3 separate regions of the Homo sapiens genome follow, and regions 1 and 3 are each linked to region 2. Evidence: fine-mapped expression QTL. A gene starts in region 2. Each other region holds a variant in brackets. All regions are shown on one strand. Distances are between the middles of the regions. Region 1 overlaps GASK1B-AS1 (GASK1B antisense RNA 1). Region 2 holds the start of GASK1B-AS1 (GASK1B antisense RNA 1). Region 3 holds the start of LOC124900801 (a long non-coding RNA gene).

Region 1 (8,188 bases), 33 kb before region 2:
ACTGAAGAAATAGGTGAATACGGAGAATTACAGCTTATCAGGACAGCAAAAGCCACTGGAGCCAGTAAAGGATAGGGGGGCATTTATACAGTATTTGGCCTATTGCTGAAGGCTGAGTGTGGACTAACTTGAGAGTTGAAAACTCAGAGACAGTGGGAGTCATTCATATGGGAGCATCCACACATTAATGAGTTTTACTTTCAGAAGACAGGACAAAAGTTTCCTCTTTTTTCTGGCATGTGGGAGGAAAACAATAACTATTTGAAATATACTCAGAAACAAAAGCCTGTCCTCAAGGTAAACTTTACCCCAGAGCTTTATCTGAATTAGAGAAAAGGCAACTAGACAGTTTGAACACCTTCTACACTTTCTTTCTCACATAAGGAGAAAAACAAAAGAAGAAACCCTTATGAAGTTCACAGCTCAGGGATTCTGGACAACTAGAAAACAGAGTTTTAGATGTTGGCAAAGATACAGAGAAAAGGGAATGCGTATATACTGTTAATGACAATGTAAACTAGTAAAACCCCTACGGAAAACAGTATGGGGATTTCTCAAATAACTGAAAATAGAAGTACCATTTGGCCCAGCAATCCCACTATTGGGTATCTACTTGAAGGAAAAGAAATTGTTATAATCAATGACACTGGCACTCATATATTTATTGGGGTACTATTCACAATTAGGAATCATCCTAAGTGTCCATCAGTAGTTGATTGGATAAAGAAGATGTGGTATATATAAACTATGGAATATTACGCAGCCATAAAAAGGAGTGAAATCATGTCCTTTGCAGCAACATGAATGGAGCTAGAGGCCATTATCCTAAGTGAAATAACTCAGACAGAAAATCAAGTACTGCATGTTCTCACTTATAAGTGGGAGCTAAACAATGGGTACACATGGACATAAAGGTAAAATAATAGATGCTAGGGACTCCAAAACAGGGAAACGTGGGAGAGGAGAGCAGATTGAAAATTATCTATTGGCTGTAATGTTTACTATTTGGGTGATGGGTTTACTAGAAGCCCAAACCTCACCATTACAGAATCTATCCATGTAGGAAACCTGCACATGTGCCTCCTGAATCTAAAATTGTTTAAAAAGAAATAAGAATTTAAAAATAGAGATTTTATCATAACATTATAGAATGTATCAACTCTCCAATATCTTACGACCACATAAATAGTGTTTTGGTATAATAACTGTGGATCACAACTAGAGAGAGTTGCAAGACACAGACTCTGCTTAAAAATGAGTCTCTAGGAAAACCCAAAGACAACAAATAGGGGAGACAAAAAGAAAGATATTAGAGAAAATAGAAGCCTCTGATACTTACAGCTACAACAACCATTAAGCACAGTCTAACTTCTGGCCCAATACACATAAAAACTAAAGGTCTACTTATCTTGTTTTCTATTATCTGATACATCATGCCTCACTTTCAATGAACAATTATAAGGCATGCTAAAAGGCAAGAAAAAACACAGCTCTGAAATGTCAAAGCAAGCCTCAGAACCAGATTCAGATATGGCAGGGATTTGGGAATTATGAGACTGGAAATTTAAAATATGCTATGACTAATATGCTAAGAGATCAACTGGGAAAAGTGCAAGAACGAATAAACAGAAAGATGAAAACTCAAAGAATCAAAAGGAAATGTTAGAGAACAAAAAATACTACAATAGAAAAGAGAATCACTTTTGATAGCTGCAAAAGAATCAGTGAGCTTGAAGGTATGTCAGTTGAAACTTCCCAAACTTAAATGGAAACAGAAAACAGAATAGGAAAAAGAAACACAATTTCCAAGAACTGTATGAAAATTACAAAAGGCATAAAATACAGGTAATAGCAATACCAGAAGGAAAAGAAAGAAAGCAGCAGAAGATACATAAATAATAGTTATCTAGGTATCTAATAATGGTGGACAACTTTCTAAAATTAATAACAGACATCAAACCACAGATCCAGGAAGATCAGATAACACCAAGCAAGATAAATTTTAAAAAAACTACATGTAGGCATATTGTATACAAATTGTGGAAAATAAAGAGAAAATATTGAAAGGAGTCAGAGGAAAAACTATCACCTTACTTATAAGGAACAAGGATGAGAATTAATCAGACTTCTCAGACACCATGCAAGGAAAAAGAGAGTAGAGTGAAATATTTAGAGTGTTGAAAGAAAAATCCACCAACCTATAATTTGTTTCTTATTCTTAATTGATCGCATAGATAACTTCAAAATAATAATATCAGTAATATATTGGGTGATATTAGTTTATGAATAAATGAAATAAATGACAGCAATGCTTTAAGGAACAGGAGAGAGGCACTGGGAATAATCTTTTATACAGTACCTGCACTACCTGTGAAATGGTATAGTGTTATTGAAAAGTGGACTTAGTTGTAAATGTGTACTGCAAACTCTAGGACAATTTCTAAAAACATATTTTTAAGTATAATTGATATGCTAAGAGAGGAGAGAAAATAGAATCATATAAAATGCTCAATTAAAACTAGAAAAGGGAGCAAAAGAGGTATATTAGTCTATTTGCAGACTACTATAAAGATACTACCTGAGGCTGGGTAATTTATAAAGGAAAGAGGTTTGACTCACAGTTCTGCATGGCTGGGGAGGCCTCAGGAAGCTTAGAATCATGGCAGAAGGCGAAGGAGAAGCAAAGGCATGTTGTACATGGCAGCAGGTGAGAGGAAGCAAAGCGGGAAGAGCCCCTTATAAAACCATGGGATCTTGTGAGAACTCACTCACTATCACGAGAACAGCATGGGGAAAACCACCCACATGACCCAATCACCTCCCACCAAGTCCCTCTCTCAACAGGTGGGGATTATGGGGATTACAATTCCACGTGAGATTTGGGTAGGGGCACAGAGCCAAACCATATGAAGAGGGGAGGACAAAAAAGGGAAATAATTACAAGGGCAACAAACAGAAAACAATTAATATATGGGAAATATTAATCCAACTCTATCAAGTATCACTAAATATAAATGGTCTACCAATTAAAAGACAACGACTGATTGAATAAAATACAGGCATCAACTCTACGTTGTTTACCAGAAATCCATGTTAATTATAAAGACACAAAAGGAATGGAGAAAGTTATATTTTTCTTTTCTTTCCTTTTTTTTTTTTTAACCTTTGAAACAGGGTCTCACTCTATCACCCAGGCTGGAGTACAGTGGCACAGTCATGGCACACTGCAGTCGTGAACTCCTGAGCTCAAGTGATCCTCCCACCTCAGTCTGTTGAGTAGCTGGGACTGCAGGCATGTGCCACCACAACAAGCTAATTTTTAATTTTTTGTAGAGATGAGGTTTCACTATGTTGCCCAGGCTGGTCTTGAACTCCTGAACTCAAGAGACCTTCCTCCTTCAGCCTCCCAAAGTGCTGAGATTACAGCATGAGCCACCACGCCCAACAAAATATATTTTTCTAACACTAATCAAAGGAAAGCTAGAATAACTATTTTAACTTCAGACAAAGCAAACTTCAGACAAGGAAATTATTAGGAATAAAGAAGGCCATTACATAATGATAAAGGGGCCAGCTGTCCAATAAGCCATAACAATCCTGTGTATGCACCTCACAACAGAGTGTCAAAATAGGTAAGGCAAAAACTGGTAAAACTGCAAGGAGAAATAGACACAAATAGATTATTGCAGTTGGGGTTTTCAGTATTCCTCTATTAGTAATTGGCAAATCGAACAGGCAGAAAATCAGTAAGAATATAATAGAAGTGAACAGTACCATCATCACCTGGGTTTAATTGATAGTTATATCTCATTCAACTGCAGCAAAATACGCATTCTTCTCAAGCTCGTATAGAACATTAACCTAGATACACTACATCTGGGGCCTTTTGCATGTGTCAGAACCCATAGAGCTATACAACATACAGAGTGCACTCTAATGTAAACAATGGACTTTAGTTCATAATAATGTACCAATATTGGTTCATCAACTGTAAGAAATGTACAACTCAAACGCAGATGTTACTAATAGAACTGTGAGAGAGTAGAGAGGGGTTATATGAGAACTCTATTCCTATCTCCTCGATTTTTTTCATAAATCTAAAACTGCTCTGAAAATAGTGTGCGAAAATGTCATTATTTTAAATTTGTGATTATTTTATGGCAGTTAAACTATTTTCTCAGCCTGGTGAAGGAAACCAACCCCCTAAATGATCTTATCATATTTGCATATATATTTATATATTTAATATTGTATACAAACATGAAATATAAATATATTTATTATTTATTAAATATGTCTTTATTAAACATATTTAATATTGACCAACATATTAAATATTAAATATATTAATGTAGAACATTTATATATTAAATAGATATTTAAATACAATGAGATTATTGACGGGGTTGGTTTACTTTACAGGCCGAGGAATATATATTATATGTATTTAGATATGATGAAATAATTGATGGGGTTGATAACTGATAATTGATAATACATATTTGCCCATTTATTTAAATGTATATTTAACTCATTTGACTATCTTTTTACCCATTCACCAAATACAAGAATACTTAAAAAGTGAGAAATCTACTGCCAAGTGGTATTTTATTTTTGTCTATAGAATCAAAACCAATACCAATATTTTCCATATTTAATCTCTGAACACTTGTTTATCTTTTTATGATCTTTTGAGATGTTTGGGTGTGGGAACTTTAAAAAAATCTAGGCTACTTACCCTCCTTCCCCGAGTTGCTAAATGATCCTACAGACTGAGTGTATCTGCTGCTCATTTTGAGGATCTCTGTGTATAATGAGAAATGATGACTGGTGAAGGCAGTAAAAAACCTGCTGATTCATTGGATAACATAATCAACCACTTTATTGTTTAAAATAACCCTTCCTCTGTTTTTTGGAAATGGAGAAGGAATCAATTTAACA[C/T]GTAATTTTCAAGCAGAATTTTATTATATCATAGAAGCAAACAAAATTTTCCAAGAATAATCTGAAATTAGGAAAAATGTGCCATTTTACTGAGAAATAATGATGCTGTGTTGAAATGTTTCTCTCCTGATTCAAAGTATATTTTTCGTGTAAAATGTTTTACAATAAGAATACCCCAGGTTGGGCACAGTGGCTTATGCCTGTAATCCCAGCAGTTTGGGAAGCCGAGGTGGGTAGATCACTTGAGGTCAGGAGTTCAAGACCAGCCTGACCAACACGGTGAAACCGCGTGTCTACTAAAAATACAAAAAATTAGCCAAGCGTGGTGGCGGCGCCTGTAATCCCAGCTGCTTGGGAGGCTGAGGCAGGAGAATCGCTTGAAACTGGGAGGTGAGCTGAGATTGAGCCACTGCACTCCAACCTGGGTGACAAAGCGATACTCTGTCTCAAAAAAAAAGAAAAAAAAAAGAAAAAAAAGAATATCCCAATAAATAATAAAAATATTACCTTTGTTGATTTTAAAGATTTATTCCTTGAAAAGTTTACAATTCTGTAATTATAATAAACTGAATCAAAGATACCTGTAATAATTTGTTGTGAGCTTAAGAAAAGACTAGTATACTTACTTATATTTGTATTTATAATTTACTTAATTTCATAAAGTCTTTGAAGCAATATAGAATAAAAACAATAAAATAATAGGAACAAAGGAAAAAACCTAGGAAATTAAGAAAGTCAAGATGAAACAAAACAGAGTTTAGATGCCAAGAACACATAGTTACAATAGATGACTTTCAATTTTGGTCTGAGTTTCACAAGGGAAAAGGCAAACAGTGGGTTAGGATAGCTTCCTATTTAACTGCTATTTTTGTGAGACAGTTCTTCACGAAAGAAAAGGTTTTTCTAGTAGTAAATTTCAGAAGTGGCTAAAGTGGGGGTAGAGATCTAAAAATAAAGATAAATCAAAAGATTTATCTTTGAGGCATTTTTAAAGGTACTATTACACTCTTATACTCTTAACACTGGTGTATTCATTTGACAAATTTCATGGAGTGTCTACTGTAAATCAGACACTCTTCTAGACATTGGGAACAGACAAAAACCCCTGCACCAACTTAGCTTACATCTGAGAAAGGGAAACCAGAAAATAGATGACAAATATGGTATATGAAATAGTGATATGTGCTAAGGAAAAAAAAATTAAGGAGCTAGGAAGACTAGAGACTCTGTGTGTGTGTGTGTGTGTGTGTGTGTGTGTGTGTGTAGGTTGGGGGTACTGCAGTTTAGGAAAGGAAGTCCTCACTGAGAGGGAGACATTTCAGTGAAGGCCTGGAGGAGGGAGTGGGAGTGGGGAGAGAGTGTCCAGTACAGAGGCCCTGAGGCAGATTTGAGAAAGGGCAAAGAAGTCACTGTAGCTGTGGTTGAGGTGGAAAGAAGGAGAGTGGTAGAAAATGGAGTTAGAGAGGTAATGGGGGTGGGAAGAATGTGAGGGGCCTCACAGGCCTTATGGACTTTGGATATTTCTCTGAGAGAAATGGGGAACCTCTGAAGTGTTTTGATCACAGGAGATGTATTAGTCATCTGTTACAGGGTAATAAATACAGCCAACCAAAATGTAGTGGGTTAAAAGAACACTAAGTACGTATTATCTCTCATAGTGTCTGTGGATCAATAATTTGGGAGCAGCTCAAGCAGGTCTTCCTACTCAGGGTTTCTCATCAGGTTGCAGTCAGACCTGGGCTAGGGCTCTGGCCACCTGAAGAGGTGGTTAAGTCGAGAGGATTCACGTCCCAGGTGGTTTACTCACGTGACTGACAAATTGGCTGTAGCTGATGGTGGGAGATCTCAGGCCTTCTTGACATGGGCCTCACCACAGGACTGCTTGTCTCATGGAATGTCACTGCCCTTCCACAGAGTGAGAAATCCAAGAAGGTGGCTGTGTCCTTGTCCTCTATGACTTCACATCTGAAGTCACACATCATGCCTTCTGCAGTGTTCTATGAGTCATATGGTTCATCCTGATTTAGGCTGTAAGCAGATTGCATCATGGCGCGGATACCAGGAGGTGGGGATCATGGGGGTCCATCCTAGAGGCTGACCCAAGCAGAGGAAAGGAGATAATTACTGGAACAATGTCTCCCCATAGGCATGAGTATATGGAATTTAGTGCAAAAGGAGAGGAAATAGCCTTTGTTAGGGACACAGAGGGATCTTTGATAGTAATAGTATATAGGTGCAGTTAGAGGAGGTAGGAAGATCTTGTGGTGAGAGCTTGTACACATTCTCATCTAATTTTTTCTCTGTTTCTCAGTGAAAAGGAAACAAGGTCATAGGTCAAGAGTGAGGATTGGGAAGAAGGTGTTTGTTAGAGGTTCATCAGTATTTCAAGTTTTTCAGTATCTTTTAAGTGATGCAGTGCTCATTGCCACTAACCCTTGTTTGGTCATATTATAAAGGAGGAAAAAAAGCTGTAGTTTTGATCACTGTTCTATTGTAATAAGCACAGCCTGAGCTTTAGTAAAGTGAAAAAACCCCAACTCTGTGTGTATATTTTTTTTCATTTTAAGGACAGTAATTTTTTCTTTTTGATTTCAAGTACTTTCTATGTTTACAGCATAGAAAGTTTTATGCTATAAGCATCTTTTGGTAAAATTAGACTACTTTGTCACTTCTGCTTATGGAATAGAGTAAAATACAGATAATAACATTTGCTTAAAGGAGACATTTAAAAAATAAGATGTGGTTTGTCTTAGCCCAATCAGCCTAAAACCACCAGGGACAACCTGTAAACAAACCAATTGAGTTTACTGACTCATTGCAGTGTGGGGACTGCACAACAGAGCAATTGTGGGGTATCTCATCAAACAAAGGAAAATATAGGGTTAACATAAGATTTTGCTAAAGAGTGGAATTTAGGTGTGATGTAAATGAAATGATATTCTATGGGCTCTAAGAAAGTATGGTTGTGTATAAAAGGGGTCAACCTCAGCTCTGTACTGTGAAATGGACCTATGGTTCTTGTCTTAGTCCATTTTGTGTTGCTCTAGAGGAACATCTGAGGCTGCGCAATCTCTAAGGAAAAGAGGTTTATTTGGCTCACTGCTCTGTGGGCTGTACAAGAAGCATGGCACCAGCATCTGCTCCTGGTGAGAGGCTCAGGCTGCTTCCACTCATGGCAGAAGGTGAGGGGAGGTGTAATGTGCTAAGATCATACGGTGAGAGAGAAAGCAAGGAGGGAGGAGGGAGG
Region 2 (8,188 bases):
TAATAATGAATACTTTGAGTTCTATATGTTCACTCACAGATTATATTGTAAGTTATACACGAATGTTATATTGTGGCAACAAATTTTCAAGCTAACGCTTGTTCAAGGAATTTAGCCTTATTTTTCTAAAACTAAATTAAACTTCTCTGTTTCCCATGCTACCTGATGGCAAAAAACACCTTTCCATTCAGTTTCAACAGAGACCATGAGCAATTGATGGCAATTGCTTCCACATTCGAAAATGAGATATGGATCCGCAGTGCTAAGGGAGGTGGGTTGCTGCATTGGGAAGTCTGAGGTTGCTGGAGCAAATGATGGTGACCATGTCCACTGGATCACTTGTGGGGCAGTACACAGAGGCCCAAGTTAGAAAACCAGCCTGCAGGTCAGCTTAAATGCTGCCTAAGAGAACAGCCTGGAGAGATGAGGTGATCTCAACAGAACAGGGGGCTACCAAGTTCCAAGGGACTAAGGGGCCATCAACAGCCAGCTAGAGAGATGCTTTGATAGTGGTGTCTTTGAATTAACTATCTCAGAGTCAGCTTTACACACCTGCCAAACCTGGAGAGCTTATAAGTCAATTTGCAGCAGTATCAATGGAGTAGCAAGGCCATTTCTGCTATTATTGCTTCTCTCTCTCCACTACCTTGGAACAGCCAGAGCCAGGCTCAAAGTGGGGTGAGCGGCTGGGTGAGTGGTTAAGGAATAAGAGCTCTAGGCAGGAACAAAAAAGAATGTAAGATGGGTCTCCTCTGTCCCTTTTCAGTAGATTTTGGCTATGCTTTTTGAGGGACTGCTATCTTCTGGAGAAATTCTGGGAATTTAAAAGAAATTTTTAAAGAAATTGACTGTGATATAGAATCAAACATATTAATTAGTTTATGTGTATTATGTGTCTGTATGTCTATGGCTAACAACTGGAGAACTTTTACAAAAATTTAAGTATGACTGGAAAAGTCATGGGGACTGCCTGAGTTTCCATTTAAGAAAGTTGAAAAGAGATATCAGGCCACAGAACAGGTTTCAATGGGCAGTGGGGGGAATCACTAAAATTGTGCTCTGATTATATCTGACAAGCCCCATTTATCCACTGTATTGGCTATATCAATATGTTGGCTACAAATAATTCAGTGTGCTTGTCCTCAATTCTACCATGATTGCTTTGCTGTGGTGCAGTGGTGACTATCTGTCAAGGCCTGGGCTGAGGAGAGAGGCCTCTGAGCAGTTTAATGAGGCATCATGGGGGATAAAAACAAACACATTGCTGAATATTTCAAATGATCATTCCAAGGCTGCTATCTCATTCAGTCATCAGAAGAAACCGATAGGGTAAGTGCTATTATTTTTCTTTTCTTACACATGGGGGAAACTGAGGCTTAGAGAGGTAAGATTACTTGCCACAGGGGACCACACGTAAGAGGTAAATGAGGAGAATTTAAAGCCAGTCTGCCTCCCTCTTCAGCCCATTCTCTGAATATCATAGTTCAGAGTAGATAGTGTAGCCTCCACGAATCCCTATTGTGGCTATAGCAGGGGACAGTGTATTGTTCTTTTTCTAGGAGACATTTTTGGAGTGGGGGTGGGAAGGTAGTCAACGAAATTTACTAACTCACACAACTCTCCCTATCTCGTAGGCATTTCTCCATGAAAAAAATAGCTCTAAAAACAGCTAGAGGAGATGTCTGCTTATTATAACTGGCCTCTGCCAAAGGCTTACTTTTAATTGTTATAGAGCCAGGTCAGTTATTCCTTTGACTGTGGAAATAATAAGATGGTTATAAAATGCAGCTTTGGTATGGTTTCCTTGCAAGAAGTTCACATTTTCTATCAAGAAAATAATTCTGTGTGTATGGAAGTGTGTGCCTAAGAGTTTTTGAGTGCAGATAAAATTGTTTTGATGCCTGAATTCTCACAAAGTTTAGCCAAAATATCCAGGTACTTCCAGGCTACTGTCAATATTGGGATTGCTCCTTCTCATTCCTCCATGTGGCAGGACTTTTAAAGAGGAAAAAAGGACTGAGTTTAGAGTGCTGAAATAACAGCCCGATTATAATTTTTGTCAATTTACCACTTGGACGTTTATTCTCTCCTTCCCTATATATTCCAACTCCTTGCTCTTTTTGCATTGTAAAATATAGTATTTTTAGGATTATACACCATATGCTAATCTTTTACCCACTCTTCAGTATCACAACTTTCTTTCTCTGTGGGGAGGAAAAATCCCTGTCCCCTTTCTGTCTTCTTGCCTTTTGATTCTATTTGCCATAGTCTAATTGACACCCCAAGGTCATCAGCCCCTGCCTTTGTGCTAGGACACGCAAACCACCCAGGCCAATCCCTAACCTGTTTTTTCAAAAAACCTCCAATCAGAGAGAATCCACGACTTCCTTTTGTGAACTGTTGCACCGTGCAATTGCACACTATAAATGTCTTTCCTTATCTGTGTGTACTCTTATCTCACTGTTCTATTTTTTCTCCTCATTTATATTAACTCTTTCTTACCTTTTTTTCTGAACTTCTAGGCCTTCTCTTTCCAGAACTGGTGGAAGACAAATGAAACGGCCAAGATGGTAAGGTGAGTAGTTCCTGGGAACGCTTGTGCTCTAACCCCAAGTTATGTGGGATGGACACTCGAGGGGTGATGGCATTCCTCATTTTACAAGTTACTTGCTTGGCTGCGGCTGCTCCACCAAGATAGCAAACATTCTCGATCTTTTGAACTTCATGAGACTGACATTTCTGAGTCTGTTTGCGAACAGGACACTAGAGGGCTCCCAGGGGTTAAAAATAAGTGGAAATTTATTTGAATGAAAACTGATTCTCTACGGCATTTCTTTTTTCCGAATTTAAAATTAAAGTTTATTTTGTTAACTATTGTTTTTAAAAGCTTTGTATCTCTTAAAACCATGCAGCAGTCAGTTTCCAAGTTTTGCTTTGCAATCAGTAGTTTTCAAGGGAGCTTTTAAAGCTGAACTGAAATGTTTGAAATGTGGAACACTCTTGACCATGAAATATGTTCTACTTACATGCCTCAGCCTTTAAAAGTTCTTTGCATTAGAGTCAAGGATTACATTCTTCCTGGAGCCAAGCATGGGGCCAGCTGTGTAAGTAAGGTTGCTTACGAGTTTCTTCTTTTTCTTTTTAATAGTGAAAAAACAGAACTAGAGATGCTTTTATTTTCTTTCAGCTGACTTCGGTGGAAAGAAAAGAAATAAAAAGCAGTCAGAGTTGTGTTGTGTTGTGTGTGTGTATGTGTGTGAGAGAGAGAGAAAGAGAGAGAGAGAGAGAAACAGAATAAATGCAACTGCTTCCAAGATATATGGACATTTATGGCTTTGTATTATACTAACAATGTAAGCTAATGGAACATATTATTAATATGAAGTACAATTTGTACCTTTAGACTAAGAGAATATGTTTCTAAATTTTATTGTTAATACTTGCTGCTTGTACTTAGTTAATTCAGGACTTTAAAAAATAAAAATGGTATAGGTATAGAGTATTAAAAAATTATCTATTACTTGTCTTAAGTTCTTTCTGAATTTCAAAAAGGAAAAGCCCAGGTTTGTCACATTTTAACGCTTTTGCTTCAGAGTCAACTTAAATGACTCTAGGTACAAGTTATAAAACACTCTTGGATTTTTGTGGCTTGTTTTCACTACTTTCAAGTGACTATCAAATCTATACATCTATCTCGTTTGCATGCTTTTAAATTTTATTTTTAAAAACATTTAGTGGTGATATTTATGAAAGGAAATGATTACTTTTTTTCTTGACTCTTGTAGAGGAACTTAAATGGTTTGAAATTGTGACTCAGTTAACTCTGTATCCATTCATTCCCAGAAACAAGCCGCATTTCTCCTTGGGGAGACTGATAATTTAAAAGGTTTGTTGTGTCAGAAACATTCCCAGCTTCATCACCAACCCTTTCCTTCCACCTCTGCCCACTGGAGACCACTTATATCCCGAAGCGGACGCGGCAGCTGAAGTCAGGAAACCATGCATCACATTAGCAGGAGCCAACTGCAGACTTTAAACTCCGTTCAACATGTGGATGCGGCAGAGAAATGACCTGTCCAGACAAGCCGGGGCAGCTCATAAACTGGTTCATCTGCTCCCTGTGCGTCCCGCGGGTGCGTAAGCTCTGGAGCAGCCGGCGTCCAAGGACCCGGAGAAACCTTCTGCTGGGCACTGCGTGTGCCATCTACTTGGGCTTCCTGGTGAGCCAGGTGGGGAGGGCCTCTCTCCAGCATGGACAGGCGGCTGAGAAGGGGCCACATCGCAGCCGCGACACCGCCGAGCCATCCTTCCCTGAGATACCCCTGGATGGTACCCTGGCCCCTCCAGAGTCCCAGGGCAATGGGTCCACTCTGCAGCCCAATGTGGTGTACATTACCCTACGCTCCAAGCGCAGCAAGCCGGCCAATATCCGTGGCACCGTGAAGCCCAAGCGCAGGAAAAAGCATGCAGTGGCATCGGCTGCCCCAGGGCAGGAGGCTTTGGTCGGACCATCCCTTCAGCCGCAGGAAGCGGCAAGGGAAGCTGATGCTGTAGCACCTGGGTACGCTCAGGGAGCAAACCTGGTTAAGATTGGAGAGCGACCCTGGAGGTTGGTGCGGGGTCCGGGAGTGCGAGCCGGGGGCCCAGACTTCCTGCAGCCCAGCTCCAGGGAGAGCAACATTAGGATCTACAGCGAGAGCGCCCCCTCCTGGCTGAGCAAAGATGACATCCGAAGAATGCGACTCTTGGCGGACAGCGCAGTGGCAGGGCTCCGGCCTGTGTCCTCTAGGAGCGGAGCCCGTTTGCTGGTGCTGGAGGGGGGCGCACCTGGCGCTGTGCTCCGCTGTGGCCCTAGCCCCTGTGGGCTTCTCAAGCAGCCCTTGGACATGAGTGAGGTGTTTGCCTTCCACCTAGACAGGATCCTGGGGCTCAACAGGACCCTGCCGTCTGTGAGCAGGAAAGCAGAGTTCATCCAAGGTAACAGATTCACATGCTTCGTTATTTGCAGCTGTTGGGGATTCTGGTTCATTTTCTTTTTTCCCTCACTCTCTTTTTCTAAATGATTTTTCTCCACCCACGGTTCACATTTGGACAGCAGCAGCAGCAGCGTGTCTTTCCATGCGCTTGGCATTCTTTATTTTCCCAGCCTGGGAGGATATGAGAGTTCCAGGGAAATGCTGTATTGGACATGCAAGAGTAAGCCCATACTGTATAATCTTTGCTCTCCATTTCCCTCGCTTCACTTCCCAGTGGCTTATTAAATCTAATTAAAGCCAACGGCAATTTGCATGATGAGGAGAGGAAGCTAGGCTGGAGGCAAAGAACTTGCTGACAGTCAGGCATACTATTAAATAGGTTACTATGGGAGGAAGTAGAAGTTTTTAAAAGTAAGGGGGAAGCGGGTTATCGTTCTTGAGCAGATGGAATCTTCTTAAGCCGCGCAGAGCCAGACCATGTTAGGTTTAACCCCCCCTTTTTTTTTCAATGGATTTAACCTCTTTATTTAACAAATAAAAAGAATGAGCAAAAATTGGTGATTTGTTCAGTATGTATACTAACTAGCTGTGTGGTTTTATCAAGCCCCTGACTATGATCTATTGAGTCTGTCTTTCAAGATTCTCCCGTCTTGGGTGACAAACATTTTGGCAGGTTCTAACACATGTAGCCAGTTACTGCAGTTGCCAGCAAAAGGACTGGTCTGCGGTCATGCCCATGCCATATAAAGGATATTCTCTGAATATTAAAGCTATTCCAGGGCTCGAATACAAAGTACAGTGAGTCAGTGGCTTATGTTTGAATGCAGAATGATGCCAGAAGTTACAACTTTGAATCCAGATTGGCCCAAGAGGCTAAAATGTACCCCAAAGAGATTATAAGCTGAAAGGATACTTAACTTTCTCCATGTTACCATGAAATTTAGCATTTCAGTGAGGTTCCCAGGGAGCCTAGAATGGAATGGATTAAAATCCCTGGGAGTGGCTGAGACCCAACTGCATTTCCAATGGCTTTAGCATTATAATTTCATTTTAAAATGGATACCCCTGGAAGTACCAGTGATTTACTTAGAAAAATTGGACATTCCCTACTGATGGTGGTTCTTGTCTAAGTGCTCCAGATTCACAGGTATGCTTTGATGTCTCAAGTTTATAAAGCAGTCCACCACAGTTATGCCAATGTAAGAAACCTTCTCAAACATTTAATCTAATGTTGATAAAAATGAATTTTTATTGGGTGCCCACAATTTGCTAAGGATTATACAAATTGATTCATATGTGTTGGCTCCTAGAATTTTCATAACAATGCTATGAAGTGGGGACTATTATTATTTCCATTTAGTAGATGAGAAAATTGAGGCTTATTGAGACAAAGTAATTGGCCTCAACTCCCACAGCTAGTAGGTGGCTAAGCTGGGTTTTGACTATAGACCCAGCAAACTTCAGAACATAACTTCTTAGCCACTGGACTTAGGTGAATATGTAACTTATTATCCAAACTGGAACCGTGTGGCGTGAAAGGAGATGCTGGTGGGCATTGGGACAACAGGCCCACACTGACTGTTCTGAGCAGAGTAGAGCACAGGATCCCCCTTGTTATGCTGAAATCCCATTCATTTTCATGTCATAAAGGCCCCAGAGAGGAGAAGATGAACTCCTGTGTATATCCTGAGGCAGAGTTCTCTGATATGTCCTTTGAGCTTCCCTTAGACGCTCTTAGACTACTGTATTGGGAGAATGCAGTAGTGGCTAAGAGCCTGGGCCGTGGAGTTGGACTGACTAGGTTTGAACTTACCAATCATACGACTTGGAAATGTTGCCATGTCTCTTTATGCCTCAGTTTCCTCAGCTGTAAAATGACAATACTGCCTACCATATGAGATTGTTGTTAGTTAATACAGGGAAAACACTTAGAACCAGTATTTGCCACAAGATAAACCTTCAATAAATATTGGTTATTATTATTATTATTGTACCAAGCACATGAGGTACCAAGTTCATTGAATTCCTCACATAATCTCCAAGTCTCATGTGTTACTTCGTTACGTGATAGGACTATGACTAAAACTGCTCAATTAAACTTTTGTAATCCCAATCCCTCTTAGATATTTAATTCTTTGCTCTGAATTTCCAGCATCTTTGAGAACAAAAATTCATTTGAAGGCGGGGTTTATGATCTCAATATAGCCTGGATATTTCTCTCTCCTTTCATATGGTAGTGGTGATGGAAATAAACTAATAAAGCTATACTAATATGACTCAATTTAATAAATAAAATCCCTAAGATTATATCTCAAACAACATTCTGTCTTTGATACCTTCTTCTACTTAGTCATTTAGAGTCACAAAGTCAGGCCAGTTTCTCCAGGGGCTCATGAAATGATTTCATATAGTTATGAATACTCTACACAATGTAATTCTACTCAAGCAGACTGTTACAGTGTTGCAAAGTACATAAATAGACCACTTCTGGTCATGGTATAGACAGCATTAGGTTCTCAGTATCTCTACCCATCCACCTATTTCTAGTCTTTTTCTCACTGTGTCTTTCTTCCCTGATTTCCACGGAAGCGTGTAGCTTTCTTCTAGGGCACTGCTATTCTGTTGGTCAGAGTTTGACTTTATTTGAGCCTTGCAGCCCACCCAGGGAGGCAACAGATCTTACCTAGTTACCCAGCATCTTTTTCAGCTTGCTCTATATCATTATATTATATAATACATATTTGTATTATAATCATTTATTTAATCATCTGTTCCTTCCCACTACTCTCTAGGTCAGTGAAGGCAAAGATACTTCCTGTTTTCTTTAGAATTGCATTTCTGGATCTTAGCAGAGAGTCTGGCCCATAGTAGATGCTCAATAAATATTTTGAATGAATGAAGGAATGCGTTCATTGCTTGTTCCTTGGACTCTAAACAGTAAAACTATACTGGAAGCCACCAGCTTCTAATACTTAGGACGTGTAATAACATTTTTAGTCTTAAGTCCAGGCTGGGCTTTCTCCTGGAGGATCTCATAAGGAATTCATTGTGGAGGTAATAAAAAATGTTTTTGGTAGCCTCCTTACAATGCAAATGAAAGGTTTACAGGGCTTATTCTTGTGAGAACTATCAGTGTGGTGTGTTGGCATCACACTCTAGTGTAATTCGATAATGAGTTTTCTGCAGGAGGAACAATAGGATTTAATTTAGGT
Region 3 (8,188 bases), 160 kb after region 2:
AAAAATTGATGGTAGAGAATATAACCAGTTGTTATCTACTTGTAAATAGATGGTTACTTTTTTGTTCGTTCATAACATAGAAATAATGATATTATTAAAAATATCTCTTTTTTTTACTGGATATGGGCAAAGTAGTAGTCATGTATATCAGTGTGTGAGTCATGGGCAGATAGCATCAGCATTACCCACAAACCAGCCTTTTTCCAGCCCTACTGAATTAGAAACTGTTGGTAGAGTTCAGGAATAGATGGTTTAACTAGTTTCTCAGGTGGTCTTTATGAAAACGAAAGTTTGAAAAGTCCTAGTTCATGTCACTTTCATTCACATTCTCTTGGCCAGAACCCAATCATCTGACCCTAATTTCATGCAAGGCTGTGAGAGAAGCCAGTTTCCAGAGCAACTCTACCCTTCGGTACACAGAAATACCCAACTCGACCTAGTGTTTGGCAAACAACTAGCTATCTCTAGCTAGCATTAATCTTTCAGAAGAAAAGTTATGTCACAAGAAAATAAGTTTTAGAAGGTACTGGAAATGTTGTTTAATCAATAGTCAACCCAATTTTATTTATTTGTATTGCTTTATATTTAAAATATAGTGCTAATTCTCTTTTATATTTGTGGCACTTTGAAAAAAATTCAACTAAAAGCCTTGATAGAAAAAAAAGTTTCAATGAAAAGGATGTGTTCTGAGCAGAGCCAAATTTCTATTTATTTCTGCCAATTGCTAACCAAGTGGCATTGGGAAAGTTGAACCTGTTTTAAGAAATTCAAAGTAAAATAAAAGCTTTAACATTGAGGATACTTGAGGTTTGACAGTTTTATGTTTTCTAAGTTAATATTTTGGGATTATAATTAAATCCAATGATTAAATGAATATGTATTTGATTATTTTATGCTTTGCAAAGGTAGTTACTGGGGATTAAAACTTAGTCTAGTGATAGGAGAACTAGATATGTAAATAAATAAAAACAGTACATATGTGATTTTATTGTCTTTTATAAGTTTCATATGTTTCAGCTTTAAAAGCAAATCTATTAAAATAGTTAATTCACAATTTAGGACTATTTCTAGTGGTATTATGAGACAGACCATGCAGAGTTTTATTTTTTTATTTTTTTATTTTTGAGACAGTCTTGCTCTGTCACCCAGGCTGGAGTGCAGTGGCATAATCTTGGCTCACTGCAACCTCCTCATCCTGGGTTCAAGCAATTCTTCTGCCTCAGCCTCCCAAGTAACTTGGGATTACAGGCATATGCCACCACACCTGGCTAATTTTCGTTTTTTTTTTAGTAGTGATGGAGTTTCACCGTGTTGGCCAGGCTCGTCTCGAACTCCTGACCTCGAGTGATGTGCCTGCTTTGGCCTCCCAAAGTGCTGTGATTACAGGCATGAGCCATTGCACCTGGTCCCATATAGCATTTATTAATTATATGTTTTAAGTTTTTCCTCATTACTGTATAAACAATAACTATTACTGTATTCTCAGTTCCTGGAACTGTATATACTTAGTAGAATAGCATGCACTATATATTTGTTAAATTAATGAAACAAAATATTAAACCCCATGGTTTAGTTATGACTCAGAGTATCTTCCTTACCATTCCCTAGTACATTGTGGCCAACAATTTTCATGCCTTATGTATCTATCAAGCAATGTGATCTATGATAATCACCAGTGCAACTAAAGAAAAATAAAAAGAGCTTAGTGTTGTTATCTCTGAAAAATGAGTCAAGTGGTCACTCTGGTCTATGTGGATTTTTAAAGCTTTGTGCTGGTAATAAAGAAGTCCAATTTGTAAAGGAGAAAAAAACACATAGCAAAAGGAGAAGACTTCTGTTTGAGCTTGTGAATAGGCAAGAGAAATAAAATAGATTTAAATAGGAAAATTATATAGCTCTTCAATTAAAACAATAAAAGATGTTAGAGTGTCTTTTAAAAGAAATAAATGCTTAGGATAAATTCAGGTTTTTAATTGTTGTTTTTATTGTCACTTATCATTAACTTCCTTGTCAACCCAACCCCAGTGGCACTTTCTAGAGATCTTTGGTTTATTTCTTAGGAGTGGGCTGTCTTCTTTCTCTGTTTCAAAGCAACTGCTGTCTATTTCCTCTCCTAGGCTCTAAAAATGAATCACAAAATGTGTCATTTGTTCAAAGCAAAGATAGCCTCTTCTATATTCAGCAGGACCAAATCAGGTAATATACATGAACAGGCCTCATATAACTTGTTTTTGCTGTTGTTTTTAGAATCTGGAGAACAACTACCCAACTGCAGAGTAGGGGTGTTGCTCCTGCTCTGTGCGTGTTTGTGTTTTAAGAGACTGAGTGAAATCACCCATTTTAAAGGACAGATCAGAGACATTTAAACAAAATTGAATTTGGAGTTTGGATGAAAAATTTACTCCATTTTCTTACAAAAACCAAACTAAATCAAACCATGTTTTCATTTTGTTCACCATCCATTGAGAACATTATGGATTTTTTCTCTCTGTTTTTTAAATTTTATTATCGTATATTAAAATTTGGTTTTAAAGTTTGTTTGTTTTTTTTTGTTTGTTTGTTTTCAGATGAGTTTGGGCGCATTCAGGGCAGTATGACCATAGCCTGGTTTTTTTATTTTCAGAAACAATGCCTTTAGTCCTTTAATTTCCTCTCTACTTGCTCATCTGACATGTGTTCATTGCTCTCATTCTCCTGCTTCTCTAAATAATATTAAGTAACAGAAAATGTGCTATTTAATAAAATTAAAATGAAGTTTATTAACATATTTTTCAGAATACTATATATATTCTTAATATTTGTTTGTGTCCAGAGAATTTTTACTTTAATGTAATATAAACCTTAGGACTAATTGAATTGGAAGTATATTCTAAAGGCTACTTACTCCACCATTCTATGTTAACTCACAAACTATATAACAGAAAAAAATCATTTTTTTCTTTATGATAAATCTTAGATTAATTTTGACAAGCTCAGCATGACAATCAAACTTGCTGTACAACTTTGATTTATGTGAAAACACACACACACACATACCATCCATCAACTCTTAAAAATTTCTTCTGATTGATTGGCTAGAGAATGAAAGATTTACAGAAATATATTAGACAAAAGAACAAGCTATGAAGCTAAAATACTAATTACTAATGACAGAAGGGCAATAACATTTATTGGGAAAAGTATCTCTTCCCCTGAAGCATCTTAAAGGTTGTCTATTGATGGCTTCAGTGCTTTTCAAGGGTTAAACAAGACAATCAAATTAAATTCATATTTGCATATATGTAAGTATGGTTGAACAGTATAAATAATGCCACCTTTATGTCTAATAAATTATACTACATGAAAAAGATGGACTGCTCATCATCAACATATTCTAATTAAATCTCTTCTGTGAACTGAAGTGTGCAGTTCACAGTATGCATGAAAGCTTTACAGGCTTTCAGTTTCTTAAAGCATTTGAGAAGGATCATAAAACTGTAAACAAACAGAGTCCTCTCTAAATAACCAACTTAAGTCTCCTATCATAATTAAAATAATTTTCTAAAAGCACATGATCCAAATTGAGCCAAGAATTAATTTAAAAAATAAACAGAAAATAAAATAATATTAAATATGAAACTGAAACTATCTACAAAATCACCTAATAAACAGAAATATGTTATATGATGACAGTGAAGTTTACATATTCTTCCCACTTTGCTAGAGATCAGTGCTTGTAGGGGAAGAAAATTTGAGAATTATCAGGATGA[T/C]ATTTCTTCTTATTTCACCAGGTACATGTTAACATCTCAGTTTTCCTAAACTAAATGTATGCATTTTTCATTATAAAGTACCTTTACTCACTTAAAGCTTCCAGTTAGCAGAAAGTTCATTTCTATGTGGCTTTGGGATTTGTACTCTTTATTTGGGCTAAAACCTTGTGAAGCAAAGACAGCTGAGGGGAAAGGACAAGAAGCTACATGGAATTCTTCACCTTAAGGCTGGAGTCAGAGAGGAAGGGAGTGCCAGCGACCCCAGACGTGTGTCAAGGTGTTCCCCTGCCAGAGACTTGGAGCCAACTCCAGCCACTACCTGGTGAGATACTGTACTGCCACTGCAACAGAACCATCTCCAGGATCCACTTCACTTCTTTACAACAGCTTGCTCTGTGACAAACCCAGTGCCTAATCCTACCTCCCTGCACAAAGAAGATGATTCAGGTGCACACTCTTTGCCAAAAACTTTAATATTGACAGTAGTCTTTATGTTGTGTTTCAGTCCCACTGATAAGTGCAGGAGGCAACTTGAGAAGAACTGATTGTGTATAAACTAGAGCCTTGGTAAATATATCAGAATATCAACACTGTTATAGCTGGAAGGCACTGGCTTCCAAAAGTCTTGGCCACATCCCCTAGAGGGGCACAGGAATGATGCAGGGGTGGGGAGGGGGCACTAGGATGGGGACCACAGAGAGTTCTGCTGTCTTTGGGTTCCACATGTCAAACAAGCACCAGCTACAAATGACAGTTCCAAAAGACTCAGCATTGGTACATTGGAAAATACCCAATAAATGTGGTAAACATAAAAAAAGTGAAATTTGACCATTTATCAAAGTTATTTGTGATTATCAAAACAAAACCCCCCAAATTTAAAATGGCCATATTTAAACCATAGACTGTAGTGACTGTACAGGCTGCAATGATAGTGAATGAATATTTTAAATTCAGTTCTGGTGACAACTATGACCAAAGGTGATATTTTCTAAATTTATTCCTTTAGAAAATAAGTGATACAATTTCATTTGTTTAATTTTTTACAAAGGTAGAATTCTTCATAATCGGGAAATGCTATTGCCTTTTATTCTCTAAGAGTTAAGCAATGGCCATAAACTTCAGTTCTATTTGATCATTTGTTCACATCTGCATGTTAACAGGTTGGCTTGTGATGAACCGTATTCAGCTAAAGCCACCGAAGTACTGCAATATAGGGCAAAACAAATCATACAGTGTTTTTAGTGGGCTGTCAAGATACTTCACGTTTTTTTCAAGCATTTTCTACTGCATTATATAATGTTTCCTCTAGATATTTCAAATATTGCACAGTGTAAGATCCCCATATTCACTCTTCTCAAAACAGACCTTGGCAGGCCAGACATGATGGCTCATGACTGTAGTCCCAGCACCGCGGGAGGCTGAGACAGACGGGCGATTGCTTGAGTCAGGGAGGTCAAGGATGCAGTGACCCATGATCACACCATTGCATTCCAGCCTGGGAGACAAAATGAGACCCCATCTCAAAAAAAAAAAAAAGCCCAAAAAACAAAAAAAGTAAACAAAAAGCAGACATTGGCCATCATTTCCCTTTAGAAAACTAAACCTTAACCTCCAAAGAAATGCCATTCCCTCATTTATACTCTCCTTGTGCACTGTAGAGACTTCTCTCAAAGCACTTATAGTGATAGATTCATTAAATCTGTCTATCTCTCTCTCTATCTATTATCTATCTATCTTGCTTGGTTATGAACTTACCCTATTTATTCCCTCACACAGACTTATGTGCCCTATGCTCTGAGGGCTTAGGCTGTATTCATTTTTACATATTCAGCTCTCTGCTCCAAATCTAGCACACCTAGTTATTTAACAACTATGTATTAAGTGCTTACATAGAGTCAGACTGGTGTAGTGGAACAGCGCATTAGCTGTGTGATTGTCAGAAGTGTTTGAACCAGAGCAACTCCATCTTGAATAGGGGCTGGTAAAATAAGGCTGAGACCTACTGGGTTGCATTCCCAGGAGGTTAAGGAATTCTTAGTCACAGGATGAGACAGGAGGTCGGCACAAGATACAGGTCAAAAAGACCTTGCTGATAAAACAGGTTGCAGTAAAGAAGCTGGCTACAACCCATCAAAACCAAGATGACCTCGAAAGAGATCTCTGGTCGTCCTCACTGCTCATTATATGCTAATTATAACACATTAGCATGCTAAAGGACACACCCACCAGCACCATGACAGTTTACTGTTGCCATAGTAACATCAGGTTGTTATCCTCTATGGTCTAAAAAGGGGGGAACCATCAGTTCGGGGAATTGCCCACCCCTGTCCAGGAAAACTCATAAACAGCCCAGCCCTTGTTTGGTATATAATCAAGAAATAACTGTAAGTATCCTTAGTTGAGCAGCCCATGCCGCTGCTCTGCCTATGGAGTAGCCATTCTTTTATTCCTTTACTTTCTTAATAAACTGACTTTCACTTTACTCTGTGGACTCACCCCAAATTCTTTCTTGCGTGATATCCAAGAACCCTCTTTTGGGGCCTGGATCTGGACCCCTTTCCGGTAACATGATCATGGGTAGTTACTTTATCACTCTTTATTTCCTTTTCTTCATTTTTAAAATGTGTGTAATATGTCATTTAGTTTGCAAGGTTGAAGGGATTGGAGCACAAACCTTCTCAACAAGCCTGAGGAACTTGCCCTCAGGTTTGTCAAGGAGCAAGGCTGCAGCCGACAAATGGAGCCACTGTTCTCTGTTTCTCTGCTGTGTCAAGTTCAAAACTGATGACCCAAGAATGGAGCTCATCAATTTCAAAAGGAAATAATTCTATGCTTTTTTTTAGCCTCAGAAGATAAATATTTCTTGTGGTACCTCTGACATGGCAACATGCCCATGCACGTCGGCAGTGAATAGATGGGGTTGGTGGATGGAAATGGCAAACAGACCGGACAGACCTCACCCAAAACTTAACAGCAGCAGGCCCTGAGAGGGCCAGTGAATCTCTCCATGATCCTTGGTTAGTGGTCAATCTGAAGCTTTTCTTACCGAAACAAATAAAGATATGTCTACAACAACTGATATCGACTGAGAGGCATATCAGGCAGGGGTAGCTGCCTGAACTCTGAAAGGGACAGAGAGGAGGCACAGTGAAGACAAAGAAGTAATGTGTAACTTTTGGGGAATGAGGAGGCTACAGAGCCTGATGGTAAAACTATGTCAGCTGCTCAGGAGGGAGAAGCTGGAAGGGAGGTTTGTTGTTCTTGGCAGGCGGATGTGGAGGTTGGAATGAGTGTAGTCCTTTTAAGTTTTGTTTTGTTTTCTTTCCAGAATATCAGTGACCTTTTCTCCCAATCTAAAAATTTAACTTAAGAGAATATATTATGTGTAAACTTGGGGCAATAAGGGCAAAACAAAACAGCAGCAAAAACAAGGCAATAGCATTTGCTAATCTTTACCTGACAGCTGAAATAGATAGCATTTGTAAAGATGCGGCTCAAAGAAAGTACTCACAATTGATAATTACTGTTGTTGTTGATGTTTAGTTGCGGATCTGTTATGAGTGCCATTTATTTGTCACTAGGCTTTTGTTTATGTGCAATTCATTTTCTCTAATATATTCATAACAAATTTATACAAAAAGTATCAATTTCCCATTTTGTATTCAATGGAATTGAAGTTGAGAAAAATTAAATTAACTGAATAAAGTCACATAGACAGGAAGTCAGAAATCAAATGCAGACTAGTATATGTCCAGGTTCTTTCTTTTACATGGCATTGCAAATATTTAACATACAAAGTGTGAGGTTCTAACCTATACAAATATAGAAAATGGAGGAGCAAATGGATGGCAACTAAAGTAGGAATACACTAAAGATCTATTTTCTATTAATCCACACTTTTCCTTATTTTGACATTGTTTCTATCCCAAGCACAAGTAAGTGTTTCCATTTGGATGCTAATAGGTGCAAGCTTCCCAGCTTCACTTTTAAGACTTGTTAAAAGAAAAACTTTAGTTGAATTAAATTTAAGAGAGTTTAATAGAGCAAAGAACTATTCGTGAATCATGAATCAGCAGCCTCCTGAGCCAGAGTAGGCTCCATGACTTCAGCACAGCCACGGATGTAGGGACAGAAAAAGCAAAGTGATGTACAGAAAACATAAGTGAGGTGCAGAAACAGCTAGGTTGGTTACAGCTTGGTGTTTGCCTTATTTGAACAGGGTTTGAACAGTTGGCCACATCTGATTGGCCAAAACTTGGTGATTGGCCTAAGAGTAGGTTACAACTCCATTTAGTTTATAGTTCAGGATGTACAGAGAAACATTTAGGGTGAACTTAAAATATGTAAGGAGATGGCCTTAGGCTAAACATAATTGAACCGACTTAAGAGATTTGAATTGTTCCCATAAATTGTGGGAAACATCAATAATTTAAAGATGA

What was found.
Region 1: its variant is fine-mapped to the expression of GASK1B-AS1 in whole blood (TOPMed, PIP above 0.99).
Region 3: its variant is fine-mapped to the expression of GASK1B-AS1 in whole blood (TOPMed, PIP above 0.99).

Annotation. Positions count from the first base shown.
Region 1 is chr4:158,200,259-158,208,446 of GRCh38, reverse strand. It overlaps GASK1B-AS1 (GASK1B antisense RNA 1), which reads right to left. Exons shown (of 5, transcript NR_147410.1): 5 at 5,570-7,035. Among named protein-coding and RNA genes, the nearest start is that of TMEM144, 6.1 kb to the left of the region's middle. The variant C/T (reference allele first, on the strand shown) is at 4,942.
Region 2 is chr4:158,167,255-158,175,442 of GRCh38, reverse strand. GASK1B-AS1 (GASK1B antisense RNA 1) reads right to left here and starts at 4,691. Exons shown (of 5, transcript NR_147410.1): 1 at 3,963-4,691. GASK1B (golgi associated kinase 1B) reads left to right here and starts at 2,418. Exons shown (of 5, transcript NM_001128424.2): 1 at 2,418-2,575; 2 at 3,844-4,977. The coding sequence starts at 4,068. It overlaps LOC101928007 (a long non-coding RNA gene), which reads left to right. Exons shown (of 4, transcript XR_007058350.1): 3 at 1,177-1,329; 4 at 1,635-1,755. RefSeq lists enhancers at 3,042-4,241, 4,415-4,935.
Region 3 is chr4:158,007,534-158,015,721 of GRCh38, reverse strand. All of the region lies in intron 1 of LOC105377509 (a long non-coding RNA gene), which reads left to right. LOC124900801 (a long non-coding RNA gene) reads left to right here and starts at 5,967. Exons shown (of 2, transcript XR_007058348.1): 1 at 5,967-6,133; 2 at 6,593-6,824. RefSeq lists a silencer at 1-5. The variant T/C (reference allele first, on the strand shown) is at 3,750.